Linked DNA regions of Homo sapiens: region 1 is linked to region 2. The links come from fine-mapping of genetic effects on gene expression. A gene starts in region 2. The other region holds a variant in brackets. All regions are shown on one strand. Distances are between the middles of the regions. Region 1 holds the start of SCAMP3 (secretory carrier membrane protein 3). Region 2 holds the start of HAX1 (HCLS1 associated protein X-1).

What was found. PIP is the estimated chance that this variant, and not a neighbour inherited with it, causes the effect.
Region 1: its variant is fine-mapped to the expression of HAX1 in sigmoid colon (GTEx, PIP 0.98).

The regions. Positions count from the first base shown.
Region 1 is chr1:155,262,184-155,270,183 of GRCh38, reverse strand. It overlaps SCAMP3 (secretory carrier membrane protein 3), which reads left to right and starts at 7,824. Exons shown (of 9, transcript NM_005698.4): 1 at 7,824-8,000. CLK2 (CDC like kinase 2) reads left to right here. Exons shown (of 13, transcript NM_001294338.2): 3 at 468-696; 4 at 1,389-1,476; 5 at 1,825-1,891; 6 at 2,058-2,174; 7 at 3,289-3,455; 8 at 4,230-4,324; 9 at 5,410-5,539; 10 at 5,634-5,716; 11 at 5,884-5,963; 12 at 6,144-6,234; 13 at 6,784-7,316. The coding sequence ends at 6,966. The variant C/T (reference allele first, on the strand shown) is at 3,142.
Region 2 is chr1:154,269,192-154,284,963 of GRCh38, reverse strand. It overlaps HAX1 (HCLS1 associated protein X-1), which reads right to left and starts at 12,335. Exons shown (of 7, transcript NM_006118.4): 1 at 12,188-12,335; 2 at 11,366-11,628; 3 at 11,003-11,190; 4 at 9,963-10,014; 5 at 9,704-9,810; 6 at 9,481-9,571; 7 at 9,089-9,348. The coding sequence starts at 12,240. The coding sequence ends at 9,263. UBAP2L (ubiquitin associated protein 2 like) reads right to left here. Exons shown (of 27, transcript NM_014847.4): 27 at 14,117-14,764. The coding sequence ends at 14,669. RefSeq lists an enhancer at 12,272-12,441 and a silencer at 12,579-12,719.

The DNA.
Region 1 (8,000 bases), 990 kb before region 2:
ATTTCACCATGTTGGCCTCAAACTCCTGACCTCAAGTGCTCCACCTGCCTTGGCCTCCCAAAGTGCTGGGATTACAGGCGTGAGCCACTGTGCCCGGCCCAGTTTTAATATTTTAGTGGTATGTTCAGTGGAAAGAATGGGTTAAGGATGGTTTAGAGCAAGGGGGGATTTCATTCAGGAAAGCTTGAGAAAAAAATGGCTCTTTGTTTCTTTGTATCACTGCAGCGGGAAAAAGGCCCCAATAGGGAGTGGTTCTGCAGATGCCTTTTCAGAGGTTTTGGTGACATGGCAGATGTGCTTGTTACCTCACTTCTCTGGTCCCTTGGTCCTCTCAGTGACTCAACAAGTGTCTGAGAACAGTTTTCTAGCATTACTCTTTGTCCTCACTAAGGCAGGACCTTGTCACAGGGTATGGTAGGGAATGTGATCTGAACAGATACACCTCATTGGTATTTGTTATCCAACAGCAGTTATGATGATCGTTCGTCCGACCGGAGGGTGTATGACCGGCGATACTGTGGCAGCTACAGACGCAACGATTATAGCCGGGATCGGGGAGATGCCTACTATGACACAGACTATCGGCATTCCTATGAATATCAGCGGGAGAACAGCAGTTACCGCAGCCAGCGCAGCAGCCGGAGGAAGCACAGACGGCGGAGGAGGCGCAGCCGGACATTTAGCCGCTCATCTTCGGTGAGTGCCAGCCCAGGCCCTTCCTCTCCCCACTCTTCTGCAGGCCCTCTAGGACTCTGGTAAGTGAGCAGTATCCTTGTTCTCAGCTGAACATTGGGGCATGAACACTGAGGTGGGCACTGAGTTTGCCTACTTTCTTGGAAGCTCTCCGACTCTTGAAGGGCCCTGGATCTGCTTTGGAGATGGATGGGCACGGAGCATTTGTGACCCCCAGTGCTCTCCCTGGCATGTTGGGCTTATTGTGTTGGGAGCAGCTTCTCCGCCCCAGCGGCCTCCACTCTTTAATGGGGACCTTGCTTGTGAACTGCCTTTTTCCCCCAAGCCCTGGGCTCTGTAGCCCCCTTGGCAGGCGGGCTTGGGTGGGGGCAAGGGGAGATCTGTGTCTGCCCGGAAGGGCATTGTGTAGAGCATGGGGTTGTGGGTGACATTGGCAACAACACCACTTCTCTGCTCTGCCCATGCCTCTCCCTGTTCCTGTTTTGGGTTTGGGGACTTGGGATTATGCGCCGCTCTCTCTTCTCACACCGATCCACCTTACTGCATCTGACGTGTTCCCTTCCACTGTCCCCCATCATCGTCTGTCCCCCCTGGCTGGGCGCCTGTGACCGGTGACCCCTCTACCACCCACCCCGCCTCCCTCCGGCCCCCGCTCCGACACCTGGCTTGCTCCGACCCCCCCTGCCCCCCGACAGCAGCACAGCAGCCGGAGAGCCAAGAGTGTAGAGGACGACGCTGAGGGCCACCTCATCTACCACGTCGGGGACTGGCTACAAGAGCGATGTACAAGCCAAATCGTAACAATCCTATAGCCTGTAATGGTCCCATAGCCATCCTAACGTCCCAAGCCAACCTGAGTCACAGCCTCTTGCCTTTTCTCAGTGGTGTTGTTTATCTGGGTGGTTTGAGTTGCTGTTGAGAATTGACCTCTGTTGTCCACTCCCAGCTCTCACGGCCCCTGGGTTAAAGGTGGTGGGAATCACGCAGGGGTTTTCTTCCCCTGTGACCATCTGTATCTGTTCCCCTTCCTTCATCTCCACCCCAGGTTGCTGTCCCCTTTTTTCTTCCAACTCAGCTCATTCCCCACCTTCTCTCCCTCCCTCTCCCCGACCCTGCTCTCTTTCATTTCAGATGAAATCGTTAGCACCTTAGGAGAGGGGACCTTCGGCCGAGTTGTACAATGTGTTGACCATCGCAGGTAACTGTCAGTCCCTCCCTACTATGTGGGGCTAAAGAGATGGTTGGGGTTATATGGGGCTTTTTTGCTAATTAACCTGAGGTAGAATTTCTTAGTCCCCCTACAGCCCTGTTCATTTTGAGACATTCTTGAGAACCCAGCAAAAGCCTCTCCTGCCAACTTACAGGGGTGGGGCTCGAGTTGCCCTGAAGATCATTAAGAATGTGGAGAAGTACAAGGAAGCAGCTCGACTTGAGATCAACGTGCTAGAGAAAATCAATGAGAAAGACCCTGACAACAAGAAGTAAGCAAGCAAGGAAGTATGTAGGGAGGCTGAGAGCCCCAACCCCTACACGGGAGAGACTTCTAGACCTGGTTTAGGCAGACAGGGGAGTCCTAGACCTTCTCATCCATTCATCTTTTGTTCATCATCTTAGAGTAGTAGAACATCAGGGTAGGAAAGGGGGGGGGCCCATGACATTCCTTAATCCACTCCCCTTGTTTTCAGGGAAGTTAGATTGCTCTGTCGTTTGACCCCAGCCTAGAATGGCTTCTGTAGAGATATACCCTGGACATAGCCCTAGGACTGAGCATCAACCTCATCGAACAATGAATTAAGCTTTTATAAGTAGAACTATGCTGATAAGGCCACAGACATTTATGCAGTAATATTTTGTTCACATACATTCACAGTCCAAAAATAGAATAAGGACTTTAAGCCAAGATATGAGGCCAGTAGGTATAAATAGGAGCCCAGTGGTAGCTAGTGGTGAATGAATATCAGGAGTTGGGCTGGGGTTGGGATTTAGGATGGACAGTTTGATGATTCAGGATCTATACTGTTTGGAGCTTGGCACTCCACAGCTCTTCAGCAAATAGTTTTTGAACTATTTAAAATGACGCAGGAAGATATTTTGAAACTTGGGCTGGGCATGGTGGCTCACGCCTGTAATCCCAGCACTTTGGAGGCCGAGGCGGGTGGATCACAATGTCAGGAGTTCGAGACCAGCCTGGCCAATATGGTGAAACCCCGTCTGTACTAAAAATAAAAAAATTAGCCGGGCATGGTGGTGGACAACTGTAGTCCCAGCTACTTGGAAGGCTGAGGCAGGAGAATCGCTTGAACAGGAGGCAGAGGTTGCAGTGAGCCAAGATCGCGCCACTGCACTCCAGCCTGGGTGACAGAGTGAGACGCCATCTCAAAAACAAAAAAGAAAAAAACCTGGCAGATAGTACCATTCTTCTTGGGTCTGGTAGAGGCTACTCCTTAG[C/T]TGAACTGAATTTTGGTGTTAGTACTAGCTGGCATGGTTTTACACAAGTATGTGGAATCAACAGCTATGAAGTACCTCCTTGTTGGATGGCTGATGGGCAGATGGGAGCTCATCAGACAACCCCCCTTCCCCCATCTCTCTTCTCAGCCTCTGTGTCCAGATGTTTGACTGGTTTGACTACCATGGCCACATGTGTATCTCCTTTGAGCTTCTGGGCCTTAGCACCTTCGATTTCCTCAAAGACAACAACTACCTGCCCTACCCCATCCACCAAGTGCGCCACATGGCCTTCCAGCTGTGCCAGGCTGTCAAGTGTGAGTGGGGTGGGCCGAAGTGGACTCTGGGGCAGTCCCTCCCTTCATTGGATCTCTCTGTCGGTTGTGCACTGGTGAAGCCCCTAAACAGTCAGCTGTCTGTTATCTGCAGTTCTTTGATTTACTGTCATCTTGAAACGTCTTCTGACTTAACTCCTTGACTGATGTCTTTATCGTCACTGATTGCTCTTACTCTACACCTAGCCTAGCAGCAGCTAGAAGAGAAAGCCTTTGGAATCAAAGCACTTAATTACCCTCCCCTTTTCCTTTCTCCCTTTCTTGGGAAAGCATCAGTCAGACAGCAAACATAAAGAGACAAAAATACACTCCTTAGGGTAAAGGCTTACATTTGTCTGGGATGAGATGTTCATTCACAGCAAAGGAGATGGGAACACAGAGTATGTAGTTCAGCTAAGGGGCAAGGTGGGGAATTCAAAGAAATATATCATTCCTCTGGAGTCATCAAAATAATACAGTTTCACAGAATTGAGTTAACATAATGCCAGCTAGACACATGTCAAAGTGTGTACACACTACAACTCAAAGCAAACTTTTTTTTTTTTACATCAGTTGAGCTACATATGTATCTTACATTAGAAAGAGCAGAGCTTCTTAGACCAGGCATTCCATTTAGACGTAGAGCAGAAAGCAGCCCTAGTGATTCTGGACCTGTCTCCTCACTGGCTTTGCCCTAGGTAACCAGGCCTGGGGTCAGCTGATACCAGTTAGCTCTGGCCACCTGCACCAAGCCTGACCTGGCCTTCTCCCCTACAGTCCTCCATGATAACAAGCTGACACATACAGACCTCAAGCCTGAAAATATTCTGTTTGTGAATTCAGACTATGAGCTCACCTACAACCTAGAGAAGGTAAGATGGATAGGGTCTGCCCTTGGTTACTGGGGGCAGGCAGCTGCACCACTTTGCCTTCTGCCGAGCCCTTTGTTTTCTCCCTTTTATTTCGTCCTCCCACATTTTCTCCCTGTCTGGCTCCAACTGGGTAAAACTAAATAGGTTGAAAGGGAGAAATCTCTTAAGAAGACTTAAATTGGGAGATAACTTGTACAGGGGACTTCAGATAACTTTCCAGTAGAGTGAAAGTTTTTAAGGTTCTTGGTTTGGACTTTATTTATTTATTTATTTATTTATTTATTTATTTATTTGAGACAGAGTCTCACTCTGTTGCCCAGACTGATGTGCAGTGGCATAATCTCGGCTCACTGCAACCTCTACCTCCCAGGTTTAAGTGATTCTCCTGCCTCAGCCTCTGGAGTAGCTGGGATTACAGGCACCCGCCACCACGCCTGGCTAGTTTTTGTGTTTTTAGTAGAGATGGGGTTTTGCCATGTTGGCCAGGCTGGTCTCGAACCCCTAACCTCAGGTGATCTGCCTGTCTCGGGCTCCCAGAATGCTGGGATTACGGGTGTGAGCCACAGTGCCTGGCCCGGACTTCTTTTTTGAGATGTGTATTTCTGTGAGGTAGGAAAGCTCGGCTCCTTTGACTAACTGGAGATAATGGAGATCTCAGACCTAAAGAAGCTCTCCCTCCTTTGACCCCTTTGCTACATGTTACATATTTTTAGAGAAACTCCTTTGCTACATGTTACATTTTTTCAGAAAAACCCATTTGCTACATGTTACATTTTTTCAGAAAAACCCATTTGCTACATGTTACATGTTTTCAGAATAACTATATATCTGGCACTTGAGTGTAGTCTTCAGATGCTTACAGATGTGCACGCTGTTCTATAATCATTTCTTAATCCTTTTGCTCCCCTACTTCTAAAAGTATTATGCTGGATGTGGTGGAAGCTGTAAAACAGGAATTTCCCAGGGCTTGTAAGGCCAGGCAGGAGATCACAGTACCTTTTTTAAGGCTCAGAAGCAATGTAGAGAATACTGGTGGAATCTCAGTCTGGGTGCAGAGGTTCATCCTCTTTCTCCTCTGCTCCTAGAAGCGAGATGAGCGCAGTGTGAAGAGCACAGCTGTGCGGGTGGTAGACTTTGGCAGTGCCACCTTTGACCATGAGCACCATAGCACCATTGTCTCCACTCGCCATTACCGAGCACCAGAAGTCATCCTTGGTAAGGGAGGGCAAGGCTGTCCAAGTGTGTGAGATGATGTGAGGGTGGGGCCACCTAAGCCTCATAACACCTTTTCCCTCCCATTCTCACCCAGAGTTGGGCTGGTCACAGCCTTGTGATGTGTGGAGTATAGGCTGCATCATCTTTGAATACTATGTGGGATTCACCCTCTTCCAGGTAAGTGATGGGATGTCTTACTTGACTGCCTGGCATTCTTCTACCTGGTTCCTTTGTTTTCTGCTGAGGACCTGCCTACTCAGTTCTCCACATTGCCTGCCTTCCTGGCAGCTGATCCTTAGCATGCCCTTTTCAGTCCCATGCTCAGTTCTGTTTTTGTTTCCCAGACCCATGACAACAGAGAGCATCTAGCCATGATGGAAAGGATCTTGGGTCCTATCCCTTCCCGGATGATCCGAAAGACAAGGTGAACCTTGAGGGGGCACTAGTTAACTCTTTTCCTTTTCTCTCCACAGAATTGGTCTATTTCACATCATTTTCTTTTTTCTTTGATACCTCCTCTCCCCCCAGTTACTTTCAGATGGGGAAATAAGGGAATTGTAACAAGGGTGACCTTCTGATTCCTCAACCTCCCCTTCCCCTCTAGAAAGCAGAAATATTTTTACCGGGGTCGCCTGGATTGGGATGAGAACACATCAGCTGGGCGCTATGTTCGTGAGAACTGCAAACCGCTGCGGGTGAGCTGGGCTCGGGATAAATAGTGCCCACCGTCCAGAAGTCACTTCCTTCTTAGGGTGGTTTGCCCCCTGGAATGCTCTTCACAAGCAGAGGGTTAGGAAAGGAGGGGAGGAAAGCTGAAAGAAGACATCTTTGGTCAACAGAGGAAACATAAGAGGGAGTGGTTTTGTGGAGGGAAGGAGGTTAGACAGCCTAACCTTGAGACAACCAGAGATCAAAGCAATGTCCTGGATTCTTTAGGTCAGACAGAAAAGAATAAACTACCTTTGAAGAGCTTACATTTTAATGAGGAACTAAAGAAGATTCATGAAGTTGACAAGGATATACAAGTAGAAAGAACTTTCAAAGATTATGGAGTAATTGTGCTAGTGGGAAGGTAGGTTGAGCTATAATATCAGAAACGTTGGTCCTGGTGTGGTCGTGGTTAGGTAGCCTTCAAATTGGTTGCAAGCAGAGCCTTGGTTCTCCAAGAATGAAAGGTAGGGTCTTGAAGAAGGCAGGGTTTGTAAGGCATCCTGCCTCACCTTTTTCCTGCCCTCCTCCACCAGCGGTATCTGACCTCAGAGGCAGAGGAACACCACCAGCTCTTCGATCTGATTGAAAGCATGCTAGAGTATGAACCAGCTAAGCGGCTGACCTTGGGTGAAGCCCTTCAGCATCCTTTCTTCGCCCGCCTTCGGGCTGAGCCGCCCAACAAGTTGTGGGACTCCAGTCGGGATATCAGTCGGTGACGATCAGGCCCTGGGCCCCCCTGCATCTTTTATAGCAGTGGGTGTCCAGTCCAGGACACTGGTGCTTTTTTATACAAGAGAACGAGCCAGAGTTCACTCCTTCCTCCTGGCTCTCTATATACCTGTGAATATGTGAAATAGTGTAAATATGAAAGAACTTGTACCTATCACTTCAACCCCTGCCTTGTACATAATACTATTCCATCCACACAGTTTCCACCCTCACCTGCCCCCTCATACGGAGTTGGATGGGGGCCGAGTGAGGTAACCAGGTGGCATCTACCCCATGTTTTATAAGGAATTTTGTACAGTCTTTGTGAAATAAAATAACGTGCTTCATTTGACCCCCATCCCTGGAGTTGGAGGTTTGGGAATGCTGGGGTGGAGGGATGAAACTATTGGCAAACTTTCTGAGTTTGGGTATGAAGGGAGTCCTCCTTACCCTCCAAAATGAAGCACAGCCAGGCTACCAGTTTATTTCCCCTGTCCACCTTATCATATGGGAGGGTAGTGATGGGTGGGGCAGCATTTCTTTCAGATTAAAACAGAGAAGTGTTATGAGGTGGCACTTCTCGGATGTGGAATTATGAGAGTTGGGAAAGATCTGACTCCTAGAGTCATTAGGCCGCGGCCCAGTATAGAGCCAGAAACTCAGGTTGAAAACGTGCTCAACCTGGCTCCTAGGGGGGATTGCCACGACCGGTCAGAAGGCTCCCGTCGTCCATCTCGGGAGACTAGGAAGGCCGGATTCCTACGCGAGGCCTGCTGGGAAGTGTAGTTCGTTAGTGGAAGGAAGTCACATGGAAGAGGGGCGGTAGTTGGTTGTGGGCACTGGGTTAGAGGTATCACGTGGGGGCACTTTCGTCTTAGCTTTTGGACAAGACGCAGGCGCAACCCACGGCTGCTGCGGGGATCCTTGTGGCCCTTCCGGTCGGTGGAACCAATCCGTGCACAGAGAAGCGGGGCGAACTGAGGCGAGTGAAGTGGACTCTGAGGGCTACCGCTACCGCCACTGCTGCGGCAGGGGCGTGGAG
Region 2 (15,772 bases):
CAGGCTTGCGCCACTGTGCCTGGCTAATTTTTTGTATTTTTAGTAGAGACAGGGTTTCGCCATGTTGGCCAAGCTGGTCTCAAACTCCTAACCTCAGGTGATCCACCTGCCTTGGCCTCCCAAAGTGCTGGGATTACAGGTGTAAGCCACTGTGCCCGGCTACATGGATATATCAAGAGTGAAATAATTAAACATTTTTCTTTTCTGTTTTTTTATTTCTTTCTTTTTTTCTTTTTTTTTGGAGGGGGGGATAGGATCTTGCTCTGTCATCCAGGCTGCAGTACAGTGGTCTAGTAATAGCTCACTGCAGCCTCAGTCTCCTGGGATCAAGTGATCCTCTTGCTTCAGCCTCCCCAGTAGCTGGAACTACAGGCATATGCCACCACGCCCAGCTAATATTTTTTGTTTAGACAGGGCTCTAAAAGGGCTGGGATTATAATCATGAGCCACTGTACCAGGACAAAGTCAAATAATTCTACAACACATGAAAAATAGCAGCTTCCTGACTTCAGTGTCAATATGGTCCATCCTTTTCCAATCCCCAGAGGCAACTATTACCAACTTTTTTTTTTTTTTTTTGAGACAGAGTCTCCTTCGGTGGCCTGGGCTGAAGTGCAGTGGTGTGATCTCGGCTCACTGCAACCTCCATTTCCTGGGTTCAATTGATTCTCGTGCCTCAGCCTCCTGAATAACTGGGACTCCAGGTGTGCACCACCACACCCAGCTAATTTTTGTATTTTTAGTAGAGATGGGGTTTCTTCATGTTGGCCAGACTGGTCTTGAACTCCTGGCCTCAGGTGATCCATCTGCCTTGGCCTCCCAAAGTGCTGGGATTACAGGCGTGAGCCACCAGCCCTGGCCAACCATTACCAACTTTTAAAATATTTTCTTTAATATTTACCATTATATACCTAAATATGCTTACAGTGATACTTACTTTTTGTTTTAGAAACTAACTATTGGCCGGGCGCAGTGGCTCACGCCTGTAATCCCAGCACTTTGGGAGGCCGAGGCGGGCGGATCACGAGGTCAGGAGATCGAGACCATCCTGGCTAACATGGTGAAACCCTGTCTCTACTAAAAATACAAAAAATTAGCCAGGCGTGGTGGCGGGTGCCTGTAGTCCCAGCTACCCGGGAGGCTGAGGCAGGAGAATGGCATGAACCTGGGAGGCAGAGCTTGCAGTGAGCCAAGATTGTGCCACTGCACTCCAGCCTGGGGGACAGAGCATGAGACTGCATCTCAAAAAAAAAAAGAAAAAAAGAAACTAATTATTGTGTTTACAGTATGGAAGATAAGGATTTAGTTACATATTGCACTGCCCACAACAAATATATGCATTGGTTCCTCCATCTTCCCAATGTAGACAAGTACTTTTTATTTTTATTTTATTTATTTATTTATTTATTTATTTATTTATTTATTTTTATTTTTATTTTTTTTTTGAGACGGAGTCTCGCTCTGTCACCCAGGCTGGAGTGCAGTGTTGCAATCTCGGCTCACTGCAACCTCCGACTCCCGGGTTCAAGTGATTCTCCTGCCTCAACCTCCCGAGTAGCTGGGATTACAGGCACGTGCCACCACGCCTGGCTAATTTTTGTATTTTTTTGTAGAGATGGGGTTTCACCTTGTTGGCCAGGCTGGTTTCAAACTCCTGACCTCAGGTGATCCTCCTGCCTTGGCCTCCCAAAGTGTTGGAATTACAGGCATGAGCCACTGTGCCCAGCCAACTACATTGTTATTAACTGTAGTCACCATGATGTACAATAGATCTCTTGAACTTATTCCTCCTGTCCAACTGAAATTTGGTATCCATTGACCAATGTCTCCCCAGCATTCACCACCCCCTAGTCTCTGGTAGCCACCATTCTACTCTCTACCTGCATGAGGTTTTTTTAAGATTCCATATATAAGTGGGATCATGTGGTATTTGTCTTTCTGTGCCTGGCTTACTTCACTTAACATAATGTGCTCTAGGTTCATCGATGTTGTAAATGACAGGATCTCATTCTTTGTTTTCTATTTTTTCTGTAAAGAATGTCTTTATTTTAGAGATGACGTCTCGCTATGTTGCCCAGGCTGACCTTGAACTCCCTGGCTCAAGCAATCTTCCTGCCTCAGCCTCCTGAGTAGCTGAGACAACATGAGCATGCTACCGAGCCAGGCTTCATTCCTTTGTAAGGCTGAATAGTACTGCATTGTGTATATATGCCACATTTTCTTTATCCATTAACCCACTGCAGGAGACTTGGGTTGATTCCTACTCTCAGCTATTGTGAACAGTACTGCAGTGAACATGGCAGTGCAGGTATCTCTTCAACATACTGATTTCAGTTGCCTTGAATATATACCTAGTAGCTGGATTGCTGGATCTCCATTGTCTTATACTTTGTGTTGCTGATAAAGTTTGAGAATATTATGATTCTTGATCCTTTAGGTTATTTTGTTATCCACTGACACAGCCCTCAGGAGATCCTGAGAACATGTGCCCCATTTTTCTTTCTCTCTCCCTCTAGAATCTTTTAAACTCTGTTGTCTCCAGTGTTCTAAAATTTCATATGGCATGCCTTAGAGTGGGTTTATTTTCACCCTTGGTGTCTGGCATGTGGCAAGTCCTTTCAGGTTAGAAAGTAATATCCTTCAGGCCGGGCACAGTGGCTCTTTCCTGTAATTCCAGCACTTTGAGAGGTCGAGGTGGGAGGATAACTTCAGCCCAGGAGTTGGAGACCAGCCAGGGCAACATGGCAAGACCACCGTCTCTACCAAAAACAAAACAAAACAAAACAAAACAAAAAACAAAAAACAAAAATTAGTCGGGTGTGGTGGTGCACACCTATAGTCCCAGCCACTCAGGCTGAGGCAGGAGGATTGCTTGAGCCCAGGAATTCGAGGCTGCAATGAGCTATGATTGTGCCACTGCACTCCAATCTGGGTGACAGAGTGAGATTCTGTCTCAAAAAAAATTAAGTAATATTCTTCAATTCTGGAATATTTTCATGACTTATTTCATTGATAATTTATGCCGTTCTAGTTTTATGTTTTTCTTTCTTTTCTTTTCTTTTTTCTTTTTTTTTTTTTTTGAGATGGAGTCTCACTCTCTCTCCCAGGCTGGAGTGCAGTGGCGTGATCTCGGTTCACTGCAAACTCCACCTCCTGGGTTCACGCCATTCTCCTGCTTCAGCCTCCCAAGTAGCTGGGACTACAGGCACTCGCCCCCACGCCCAGCTAATTTTTTGTATATTTAGTAGAGATGGGGTTTCGCCGTGTTATACAGGATGGTCTCGATCTCCTGATCTCATGATCCGCCCGCCGCGGCCTCCCAAAGTGCTGGGATTATAGGCGTGAGTCACTGCGTCCAGCCTTTTTTCTCTTATTTTTTGATCAGTTATTTTGTTTACTTTGTGGAGAGTTCAACTTTGGAGAGTTGAACTCTATCACATTTGTGGGTTTTATTTCTGTTTTTAGAGACAGAGTCTCACTCTGTCACCCAGGCTGGAGTGCAGTGGCACAATCATAGCTCATTGCAGTTTTGAACTCCTGGACTCAAGCGATCCTCCTACCTCAGCCTTCCCAGTAGCAGGGACTACAGTGTGCACCACCCTGCCTGGCTAATCTTTAATTTTTTGTAGAGACGGGTCTCACTATGTTGCCCAGACTGTCTCCAACTCCTGGGCTAAAGCCATTCTCTCCCTTCAGCCTTCCAAACTGTTGGGATTACAGGCATGAGCCACTGCACCCGGCCAAGTACATACATCTTTATAGTGCTTAGAAATATGAATCAATAGGCTAGGTGCAGTGGCTCATGCCTGTAATCCCAGCACTTTGGGAGGCCAAGGTGGGTGGATTACTTGAGGTCAGGAGTTCAAGACCAGCCTGGCCAACATGGTGAAAGCCTGTCTCCATTAAAAACTCAGAAATGTAGGCTGGGCGCAGTAGCACATGCCTGTTATTCCAACATTTTGGGAGGCCGAGGCGGGCATCTGAGGTCAGGAATTCAAGAGCCTGGCCAACATGGTGAAACCCCGTCTCTACTAAAAATACAAAAATTAGCCAGGCGTGGTGGTATGCACCTGTAATCCCAGCTACTTGAGAAGCTGAGGCAGGAGAATGACTTGAACTCGGGAGGCGAAGGTTGCAGTGAGCCAAGATCGTGCCATTACACTCCAGCTTGGGCAACAGAGTGAGACTGTCTCAAAAAAAAAAAAAAACAAATTGCCGGGTGTGGTGGCTTGAGCCTGTAGTCCCAGCTACTCGGGAGGCTCAGGCAGGAGAATCGCCTGAGCCTCCACTTACAGGTGGAGGTTGCAGTGAGATGAGATTGTACCACTGCCCTCCAGCCTGGGAAACAGAGCAAGACTCCATCTAAAAAAAAAATTGTGTACATTTAAAGTTTTTAATCTCTCTGCATAGTCTCTGTTTCTTTCAAGTTGTTTCGTTTGTCTCTACCACTCATGTTAAATGCTTTCTTCACATATCTGGTGATTTTTAGCTCCATTTATATTTGTGATGGTACTCTAAAAAGCTGATTAGAAAAAACAATTGTATTTTTATACAATAGAAGGGTTAAAAAATAATAAAAAGGTAGGAAGACTGGTTTTACTAAATAAAACTATAGTATTTTAAGGTATGATATGGGCACAAATATAGACAAATAGACTAATAGAATAGAAAGACCCAGCACAGTTGTGTGTGTGCATGTGTGTGTGTTGTTGTTGCTATTGTTTTGGGGCTGTTTTAGTTATTTATTTATTTTTACCTGGGATTACAGGTGCCCACCACCATGCCCGGCTAATTTTGTATTTTTAGTAGAGATGGGGTTTCACTGTGCTAGCCAGGCTGGTTTTGAACTCCTGACCTCAGGTAATCCACCTGCCTCAGCCTCCCAAAGTGCTGAGATTACAGGCGTGACCCACCGTACCCGGCCTATTTATTTATTTACTTATTTATTTATTTATTTATTTTTGAGGCAGAGTCTCACCTCTCGCCCAGGCTGGAGTGCAGTGGCATGATCTCTGCTTACTGCAACCTCTGCCTCCTGGGTTCAAGCGATTCTCCTGCCTCAGCCTCCTGAGTAGCTGGGATTACAGGTATGCGCCACCACACCTGGCTAATTTTTGTATTTTTAGTAGAGACGAGGTTTCGCCATGTTGGTCAGGCTGGTCTTGAACTCCTGACCTCGTGATCCCCCCGCCTTGGCCTCCGAAAGTGCTGGGATTACAGGCATGAGCCACCGCACCCAGCCTATTTATTTTTTGAGATAGGGTCTTGCTCTGACACCCTGGAGTGCAGTGGCGTGATCATGGCTCACTGCAGCCTCAAACTCCTGGGCTCAAGTGATTCTCCTGCCCTAGCCTCCCCAGTGGCTGGGATTACAGGCACATGCCACCATGCCCCACTAATTTTTTAATTTTTATTTTGTACAGATGGTGGGGGGGTCTCACTTTGTTGCCCAGGCTGGTCTTAAACTCCTGTGCTCAAGCAGTCCTCCCACCTATCCCTCCCAAAGTGCTGGAATTACCAGCGGGAGACACAGTGCCCAACCTTGTTTTTTAAAAAGAAATATTTATATATTTGTGCATATTTTTTCCAAATTGGACCCAAATTAATACCATATACAAACAAAAATTCCAGGTAGGTCTAAAAACCTAAACGTAAAACACAAACTTATAAAGATAAATTAGGCTACAATAAATCAACTTCTGTTCACCAAAAGATACAATAGAGAATTAAAAGACAGAGCTTCATTACTATCATCTCCTGTCCTTTGTTCTTGTGATATACCTCTTTAGAGAAATCCCTTTGTCATAATTTAGTGGGATTTCCAGAGGAAACAGAAGTAAATAAATATGTCAGATTTACCACTCTCTTTTTTTTTTTTTGAGATGGAATTTCACTTTTGTCGCCCAGGCTGAAGTGCAGTGGCACAATCTCTGCTCACTGCAACCTCCACCTCCTGGGTTCAAGAGGGTCTCCTGCCTTAGCCTCCCTAGTAGCTGGGATTACAGGCGCCCACCCCCACACCCAGCTAATTTTTTGTATTTTTAGTAGAGACGGGATTTCACTATATTGGCCAGGCTGGCCTCGAACTCCTCACCTCAGGCTATCCACCCGCCTCAGCCTCCCAAAGTGCTGGGATTACAGGCGTGAGCCACCATGCCCGGCCACCACTCTTTTTTTTTTTAAATATTTATTTTTTATTTTATATTTTGAGACGGAGTCTTGCTCTGTTACCCAGGCTGGAGTGTATGGTGCAATCTCGGCTCACTGCAACCTCTGCCTCCCGGGTTCAAGTGATTCTCATGCCTCAGCCTTCCGAGTAGCTGAGATTACAGGCCCGTACTACCTTGCCTGGCTAATTTTTGTATTTTTAGCAGAGACAGCAAGTTATCCGCCCATCTTGGCCTCCCAAAGTACTGGGATTACAGGCGCGAGCCACCACTCTCGGCCTTTTTTTTTGAGACAGTCTCACTTTGTTGCCCAGGCTGGAGTGCAGCAGCATGGTCATGGCTCACTGCATCCTTGACCTCATGGGCTCGACAACGTCCCACCTCAGACCCCTGAGTAGCTGGGACTACAGGCATGCACCACCATGCCCAGCTAATTTTTAAATTTTTTTGTAGAGACAGGGTTTCCCTATGTTGCCCAGGCTGGTCTCAATTGATCCTCTCCGCTCAGCTTCCCAAAGTGCTGAGATTACAGGTGTGAGCCACTGTGACTGGCCCCAGATTTGCCCCTCTTAACCACAGTACTAAAAGCTTTTGTTGTTGTGATTGGGTCTCACTCTGTCGCCCAGGCTGGAATGCAGTGGTGTGATCATAGATCACCGCAGCCTCGAACTCCAGCCTCCAGGGATCCTCCTGTTTTAGCCTCCTGAATAGCTGAGACTACAGATGTGGGCCACCATGCTCAGCTAATTTATTTATTTATGTTTTTTGAGATGGAGTCTCGCTCTGTCAACCAGGCTGGAGTGCAGCAGCACAATCTCAGCTCACTGCAACTTCCACCCCCTGGGTTCAAATGATCCTCCCGCCTCAGCCTCCTAAGTAGCTGGGATTACAAGTGTGCACTACCACACCCAGCTGATTTTTGTATTTTTAGTAGAGTTGGGGTTTCACCATGTTGGCCAGGCTGGTCTCGAACTCCTGACGTCAAGTGATCTGCCCACCTTGGCCTCCCAAAGTGTTGGGATTACAAGTGTGAACCACAGTGCCCAGCCTGCTTGAACTCCTGACCTCAAGTGATCCACCCGCCTCAGCCTCCCAAAGTGCTGGGATTATAGGTGTGAGCAACGATGCCCAGCCTGCTCAGCCAATTTTTAAAAAATATTTTGCGGGGCGTGGTGGCTTACGCCTGTAATCCCAGCACTTTGGGAGGCTGAGGCAGGCGGATCACAAGGTCAAGAGATCGAGACCAGCTTGGCCAACATGGTGAAACCCTGTCTCTACTAAAAATACAAAAATTAGCTGGGCGTGGTAGCACGTGCCTGTAGTCCCAGCTACTCGGGAGGCTGAGGCAGGAGAATCACTTGAACGCGGGAGGCAGAGGTTGCAGTGAGCCGAGATTGCGCCACTGCACTCCAGCCTGGGTGACAAAGCGAGAGTCCATCTCAAAAAAAAAAAAAAAAAAAAAAATATATATATATATATATATATATTTTAGAAATAGGATCTTGCTATGTTGCCTCCGCCTCCTGGGCTCAAGTAATCCTCCTATCTCAGCCTCCCAAGTAGCTAGGATGATAGGTACAGTCTAACACACCTGGTTAAAAACTTTTATAATGAGAAAAGGAAGCCTGGGCAACATGGCAAAACTCCGTCTCTACAAAAAATACAAAATAATAATAATAATAAAAGGAAAAAAAACGAGAAAAAAAATTAGCTAGGCATGGTGGTGTACGCCTGTAGTCCCAGCTACTCAGGAGGCTGAGGTGGGAGGACTGAGCCCAGGTCGAGGCTACAGTGGGCCAACATCGCCCCCTACACTCCAGCCTGTGTGACAGAATGAGACCCTGCCTCAAAAAGAAAAAAGGACCTAGTAACGTTTGTGCCAGGTGTATTTTCTCTAACATACATAACAATTTTTTGAGATGGAATTTCGTTCTTGTTGCTCAAGCTGGAGTGCAATGGCATGATCATGGCTCACTGCAACCTCCACCTCCTGAGTTCCAGCAATTCTCCTACCTCAGCCTCCCAAGTAGCTGGGATTACAAACATGTGCCACCACATCTGGCTAATTTTTGTATTTTTAGTAGAGACAGGGTTTCACCGTATTGGTCAGGCTAATCTCGAACTCCTGACTTCATGTGATCCATCTGCCTCGGCCTCCCAAAGTGCTGGGATTACAGGCGTGAGCCACCACACCCAGCCACATAACAACTTTTTAAGGCCAGTAAAGTAAGGGAAATTTACCCATGTGCTTCCCCAGTTACTTCATGAACTCTCCAGTCAGTGATCCCACACTCAGGGAAGCAGTTAACCCCTACTTCCACACCCACACCCTTTTTTTGGGAATCTGATGTATCCCTCTCTAGAAATTTTCCTGAAATTATTTCTAGTCATCTCCTCAGTAAGAAAAATCATTTTTCTTTTTCTTTTCTTTTCTTTTTTTTTTTTTTTTTTTTTTTTGAGATGGAGTTTCACTCTTGTCGCCCACGCTGGAGTGCAATGGCGTGATCTCGGCTCATTGCAACCTCCTCCTACCAGGTTCAAGCGATTCTCCTGCCCTAGCCTGGGATTACAGGCACCCGCCACCATGCCCAGCTAATTTTTGTATTTTTAGTAGAGACAGAGTTTCACCACATTGGCCAGGCTGGTCTTGAACTCCTGACCTCAGGTTATCTGCCTGTCTCAGCCTCCCAAAGTGCTGGGATTACAGGCATGAGCCAACGAGCCCGGCCTCTTTTTTTTTTTTTCTTGCTTGAGAAAGAAAAATCATTTTCTACTTGTGCCTGACCCTTACTTATGAAATCAGGTTTTAGATGCAGAATAAAAAATTAAGGAATAAGGAGAAGGCAGAGGACCAAGATAATTTCGGAAGTGTTGGATGGTTCTAGAAACTGAAATAGCCTTGACAAAACCAAGACAAAAAATTAGCATAAATAAAGGTTTTATTGGTCAGTTTGGGTGAGTGACAAACTGACATGGCCCCAGTTCACTATTCCACATATCCAAGCCCCTGAGGTGGCAAGAGAAGCTAAGCTTATTAATGGTGGGCAATGGGTGAGAGGTGGAAAGGACTTGAAGGCCTCTGAGGGTTAACAAGGCTACCGGGACCGGAACCAACGTCCCAGGAATAAGTCCAGGATGGAAAAGGCATCATCCAGGGCTGGAGGTCTTGGTGATTCTGGATCTAAGGAAGAAAGTCATACACGTAAATAGGCTAAATGAAAGAGACTAGGCAGAAGCAAAGGACAAGGGTAGAAGAGTAAGATTTCCCTTCCCCAAGGAATCTTGAGATGAACCCCTTTGTCTTTTAACTTACCACCCCTAGGACTGCTATCTGCTTCGTGTCGGGTTACTGTAGTCTCTGTCCGGCCCTCACTGTCCACCACAGTCCGGCGCTCCTCCACTATCTACAAAGAGAAGTCCCCACCATATTCCGAATGTTACTAAAGGTTATGCTCAGCAGTTTCTTTACACAGATCCCTGTTTCAGGGCATTCGTTCCCTGGCCATACTTTCCTTTACCTCTTTCTTTCAACTCACCCCATCTGGTTTAGTGATCTTGGTCACAGAGATGCTCTTGAAATAGGATTTGGGCTGGGGCTGTAGAACCGGGCCAAGACCCTCCTGGGAAACCTGGGAATCAAGATCTGGAAGAGCAGAGAGATGAAGAAGCAGGAGAGAAAGAGTCCAAAGGAAAAAAGGAGACAAGTGTACAGGAAGAAACTTCAGGGAGGGAGAACACACAGAACTTCAGAAGAATAACAAAAGGCTGGTAAACTTCCCCTTCCTCCAGACTTACCATTGTCCTCTCTGGTTCTAGGATGGGGGTCCATAGGCCATACATCATCAAACTGCAGAAGAAACCATAGTAAGTGAAAAGACTCCTTCCAATCTGAAATTTGAAAGGTCATAGACCTCAAACTACTCCCGAGCTCCAAAACCCCCTTCCACAGAAGAGATAATTCCATTCAGAATAGCCTTATTTACACACTCCTTCCTGGCTGTTTTATGTATCCTTCTACCAGAAAGACTTCCTGAACTGATATATTCCTATCCTCTGTGCACAATCCTGCCTTATCCAAGAATTATCTAGACCAGTGGTGTTTTTTTGTTTTTGTTTTTTAAAAGAAACAGAACACCCATCTCCCCCCAAAGAAAATCCCACAAGCTTAATATAGAAAACAGAAAACACTAAATGGAGGGCTTAGGATTCCAACCCAAGGCTATCAGATTCAAACAAGAATTGCAATCTTTGGCCAGGCATGATGGCTCACACTTGTAATTCCAGCACTTTGGGAGGCCGAGGTGGGTGGATCACCTGAGGTCAGGAGCTCAAAAGCAGCCTGGCCAACACGGTGAAACGCCATCTCTACTAAAAACACAAAAATTAGCTGGGCGTTTGGCAGGCGACTGTAATCCCAGCTACTCAGGAGGCTGAGGCAGGAGAATCACTTGAACCTGGGAATTGGAGGTTGCAGTGAGCTGAGATTGTGCCACGGCACTACAGCCTGGGCAACAGAGCAAGGCTGGGTCTCAAACAATTTTTGAGATGGAGTCTCCACCTCCTGGGTTCAACCAATTCTCCTGCCTCAGCCTCCTGAGTAGCTGGCATTACAGGCACCTGCCACCATGCCCGGCTAATTTTTTGTATTTTTAGTAGACACGGGGTTTCACCATGTTGACCAGGCTGGTCTCCAACTCCTGACCTCTGGTGATCTGCCCACCTCGGCCTCCCAAAGTGCTGGGATTACAGGCGTGAGCCACCGCACCTAGCCAGTCTTTGCACTTTATTAGTGGTCTCTCACAAGCTCTCACTTCAGGACCAGATGGGATACTCACCCTATGAAATGGCCTCTGGGAGCCCCAGTCTGGTGCTGGTTGGGGGGATTCACTTCTTGCATCACTCTCCAAGACCCCCCCAAAGATCCTGGGCTGGTGACTATCTGGATACTTAAGCATTGAGTCCCGAAGTGTCTGTCCCTCCCGTAGTCTCTCACCAGGTGTCTCTGACTCAGGACCTGGAAGTTCTGCAGAAAGGTGGCAGGTGTTTGCTGGGATGGGAAAGGACTTGGGCTCTATTAATCTCTCTGAAATCATCAGTCTTCTCACACTTCCCATCCCCCAGCTACTCCCTGCAGGCTCTTTATTTCACCCACCAACCCACCAGAAACCACAGGTTGCCCCTTAGGGAAAGCCACACACCAGGAGGATGGGAAGGCAAGGTCCAGGCCCCCATATCGCTGAAGATGCTATTGAAATCTCGTACTAGGTCATCAAAGCCGAAGTTATCGTGGAAACGTATCCCTCCTCCTGGGCTGAAGCTGAAGCCGAAGCCAAATTCCTCAGGGGGGTGCTGAGGACTATGGAACCTTGGGTTCCCACGGCCCCATGAGCCCCCTTCTTCTTCTTCTTCCTCATCATCATCTTCATCTCGAGTCATCCCTCCAAAAAAGGGATCTCTGTGGCTGAGAGTGGAGGCAGATTGGCCACCAATATTTCAGCACTATTTAAGCCATTAAATCAACTCATGGGTGGCAAAGTGGGACAAGAGCAAGGGGTCTGGGAAGCTAGGGAGAGGGTCGGAGGACTGGCTGCCACATCAAAACATTAATACAATGGCTGACAGTTCTTTTTTTTTTTTTTTTTTTTTAATCAAAGTCAGACCTCAGCTCGCAGCTCCCTTCATACACCTTCCCCCAGTTTTTCTTCAGTGTGCCCCAGTCCCTCCTCTCTCTCCCAAGGTCCTGCTCACTTGCTCACTGTCTTATTCCCCAGACCCTCACGGTCTTCCCCGCCCGGGTCCCTGTTGCATCACCCCAGGTTGGAGAAAGGCTTAGTTTGCTGTTTCTCCTCTTAATGACCGCCTTGGTTACTGTGGCGGGGTGAGTGTTCAATGTTGCGACTTCTGTCCTCTCTGCAGGAGTTGAAGGAGTGGGACAGAGGATGTTTTTCCAAAAATAAGACGTAGGGGTCAAGCTCCCCTCAGACGACCCCCACCCTTGTCCGAGCCGGACCTACTCTCACCTCCGAGGTCCAGGAAAGCCGAAAAAGCCCCGGAAGAGATCAAAGAGGCTCATTCCCGTACTGGGACGCGAACCTTTGAACCCCTCCAGTGGTCCATTCGCAGACGGGGGAAACCTGCGCAGCCCTGTGAGAAATTGAGCGAGGCGTCAGCCCACGCTACCGGAAAGCAAGCCCGCGATCCTGACACTGTCGTAAACGACGGTAAGCCGGACGTGAAATGGAGGCGGGACCGAAGGTCTTCCTCAAATTTGAAAGGCTTTATCTTTACCCCACCTTTCAGAGACCAGTTTCCGTGACGGGAGTGGGCGTGACGCACTTTCAGTTTCCTATGACCGCCTTCCTCCTAAATCTGTTCTTCTTTCTGCAGACCAACTCAGTACGAAAAGCGATTTCGAGGGTTTGACTCTGGATGGCACCCGGATAAAGCCGCCAGAGGGCAGCCCAGCCGCACAAATGGACCGGCTTGAGGGCGTCCCTCAACCACCCCACCCGCGGGGCTGGCCAGCCTCACAGCAGAAGCCACCTCGCTCCTTACTCGGGCGTTCTTTTTGACTGACCTGGGCGATGTCTGCTGTTAGAGGGATGAACAAAATGCTTTTCCAAGCTCCTTCTAGTATTGAATTTCCCAGAGAAGAGATCAAGACATAAGAGACGCATGGACTTAACTTCCTCCACCTCTCTAGCTACTAGGGAGTTTGTTATAACTATATAGAATTCTTTTTTCTAAGCAGGCTCTGCAACCAGCAAGACAAAGGATTTTTAAGAAAGCAAGGGAAGGGAAGCTAGTTGAGTCCTGAGAAGGAACAAATTGGGGGTTATAAAGAAATATCCCTTTGGTATCTTTTTTTTTTTTTTTTTTTTTTTTTTTTTGAGACAGAGTTTTCTCTCATGTTTCCCAGGCTGGAGTGCAGTGGCACCATGTCGGCTCACTGCAACCTTCGCCTCCCAGGTTCTCTCCTGTCTCAGCCTCCCGAGTAGCTGGGATTACAGTCATGCGCCTCCACGCCCGGCTACTTTTGTATTTTTTGTAGAAACGGGGTTTCACCATGTTGACCAGGCTGGTCTCGAACTCCTGACCTAAGGTGATCCGCCCAACCCAGCCTCCCAAAGCGCCTGTCCTCATTCCTTTTTAAAAGTGTTTTGTTCAAAACCTCTCCGAGACCTGTCTCTCCCTGTACCCCATCCCCAAGCCAGACCTTGCTCTAGATTCTTTTTCAAAGAATTGGGTATAGCTATGTCACAGAGAAGCATCCAAGAAGCCACTACTACAGTAGTCCATTCCTAGGGGGAATGGGCCCCAAGGTTTTGTTTTTTTATTTCGTTTTTGGGGTACAGGTGGTGTTTGGTTACATGGATGAGTTCTTTAGTGATTTCTGCGACTTTAGCGCACCCATCACCCGAGCAGTGTACACTGTACCCAATATGTAGTCTTTCATCCCTCACCCCACTCCAAGATTTAGTTCTGCCAGACGATACATGTTGCCTTCACTTCTTTTTAGTTTATTTGCCTGGACCCATCTAAGTCATACTTAAAACTCTATAAAGCATTTTTTTTCTTTGAAATGGTCTCAGCTCCTTCTTGATCCTCTCCATTTTCCACCCAATCTCCTCTATCCCTCTCCCTTTACTGCCTGAAATCGGCTGTAGATGTAGCAGTTTCTGGAGGAAATGAAGATTTGTGGTGGTTCTTTCCAGTCACCAGGTTGTGAAAGTCTTAGGGGTGAGGGGAAGGAAATCCCCTCAAGGACAAGATACTACTACCACATTAAGGTCAGGAGTTCTTAAAGGGCGAAGATTTCATTTTATTCCACTGCCTTCAGGGGCCTGCTAGAGGAGGCCCAGTTGGTACAGTAATACTTATTCACCAAGCTGGTCATCGACGAAATTGAGGATGTCCTAGACGGAGCAAGAATAGGCAGAGGCTGAAGGTAGAGGTTTTCTTTTTATATATACAAGACACATTAATCCATTAAATTTGAGGACACAGTACAAAAAAAAAAAAAAAACAAAAAAAAAACCACTTCAACTAATTCATCTGACAATGCTGTTCATATTCATGACGCCATTTTTTTGTTTGTTGTTGTTGTTGTTTTCCTAATAATAAAGAAGGAGACTTAGGGCTGTTGGGCTGATATATGTTTGGGGGTCCCACCTCCCCGCCTCATCCGTACACCACCAGGGTGAACAGGAGGAAGCAAAGGAAGTGCAGGGCCCATAGCAAAGTTTCATAATCTTGAATGCAAGAGGGGAGAAGGAATGGAAGGGGGAAAAAAAAGGAGAAAATACAAATCCTATAATACATACAACAGGGTGGGGATGGTATAGGAATGGGACAGACATGAAGCTGAGGCATGGGGTGGGCCGCTGGGGGTGGGGGGCAGCGGAAACCCCCCACATTCCTTTCTCTTTGATGCTGTTTCCATAGTTTCCAGGCTGAGAAGCCCTCTCAGAAGATGGGACCGGGAGAAGAGGGTCAGGGCCTCAGTTGGCCCCCCAGCTGTAGCTGTTGTAGGCAGACTTGTTGGTCTGGGGCTTCTGCGGGATGGAGCTGGTCTGGCTACGTTGCCCGCTGCCCGTCTGCAGGGGAATGGGAGGATCATGAGGAGGAAAAAGGTGTCTAGTTAGTGGTACAAATTTGTAACATCTTCAGGTGGAGATGTGCAAACTGTCTTGCTCTCCCATTCCCCTCACTACTATTAGAACCATAGAAAATTTGGTCTGCATAGCTGCTAAAGCCCCTTTCTTACAAGCAGGAAGGCATTTTTGACTTTTAAATAGGGAAAAGATGAAGAGGGCAAGATACCTTTAGAGACAAGGTAGTGAGTGAGTTCTACTCATTTTCAATTCTACATTCTCACACTACCCCCTCTCTCCCCTGCTCTTGGAGATGGGTGATCACAAGGCAATTTCATTTCCATTGATCCCCATTAATGCCTCAATTTGGAAAGCTGTCTTTGAGGAAGGAAGCCCTTATTCTAGCTCCAGCCACCTATAATGGAGCTCTCAAGAGGCCACTTGCATCGCCCCACAGATCCCCACCCCTACCACACATCACATCTGTGAGCCCATTTCAGGCAGGTATGAGAGGCAGTCTGAGGCCTCAGGCTCCAGATGCTGCCCCAAGAATCTTTTCCATTCTGGTAACCGAATGTTTTCCACAGCTGGGGAAGGGTACAAAGATAAAGAGGGTGTTGGGGAGGGGAGGAGGAGAGAGGAAGGGGAGGCCAGAGAGCTCAGCAAGGTGTTTGTGTTTGTGTATCCCGATTTGTGACCGCGCAGTCTTTTCAAGTTCCCTGAGGCTGTGAAGGTGAAATGGGGACTGAAAAGGAGTGGGTTCAAGCATATGATCATTCAATTTCATTACCTGCTCCTCCTGCTGGCGCTGGCAACAGAGAATCATCTGCAAATATGGTAGCTGAGGCAGAACCAGGATATATGGAAAATAAAGGGACAAACTTTGACAATAGAACTCCACCATTAGAAGGGAAAGCTAAAATGTCAGGGAAGAGGGAAGGCTGGGAGAGGAAAGAGGGAAGGTGTGACCCAGGTCTGATGGGATGAGGACAACTGTGGCACAGGAGGAGA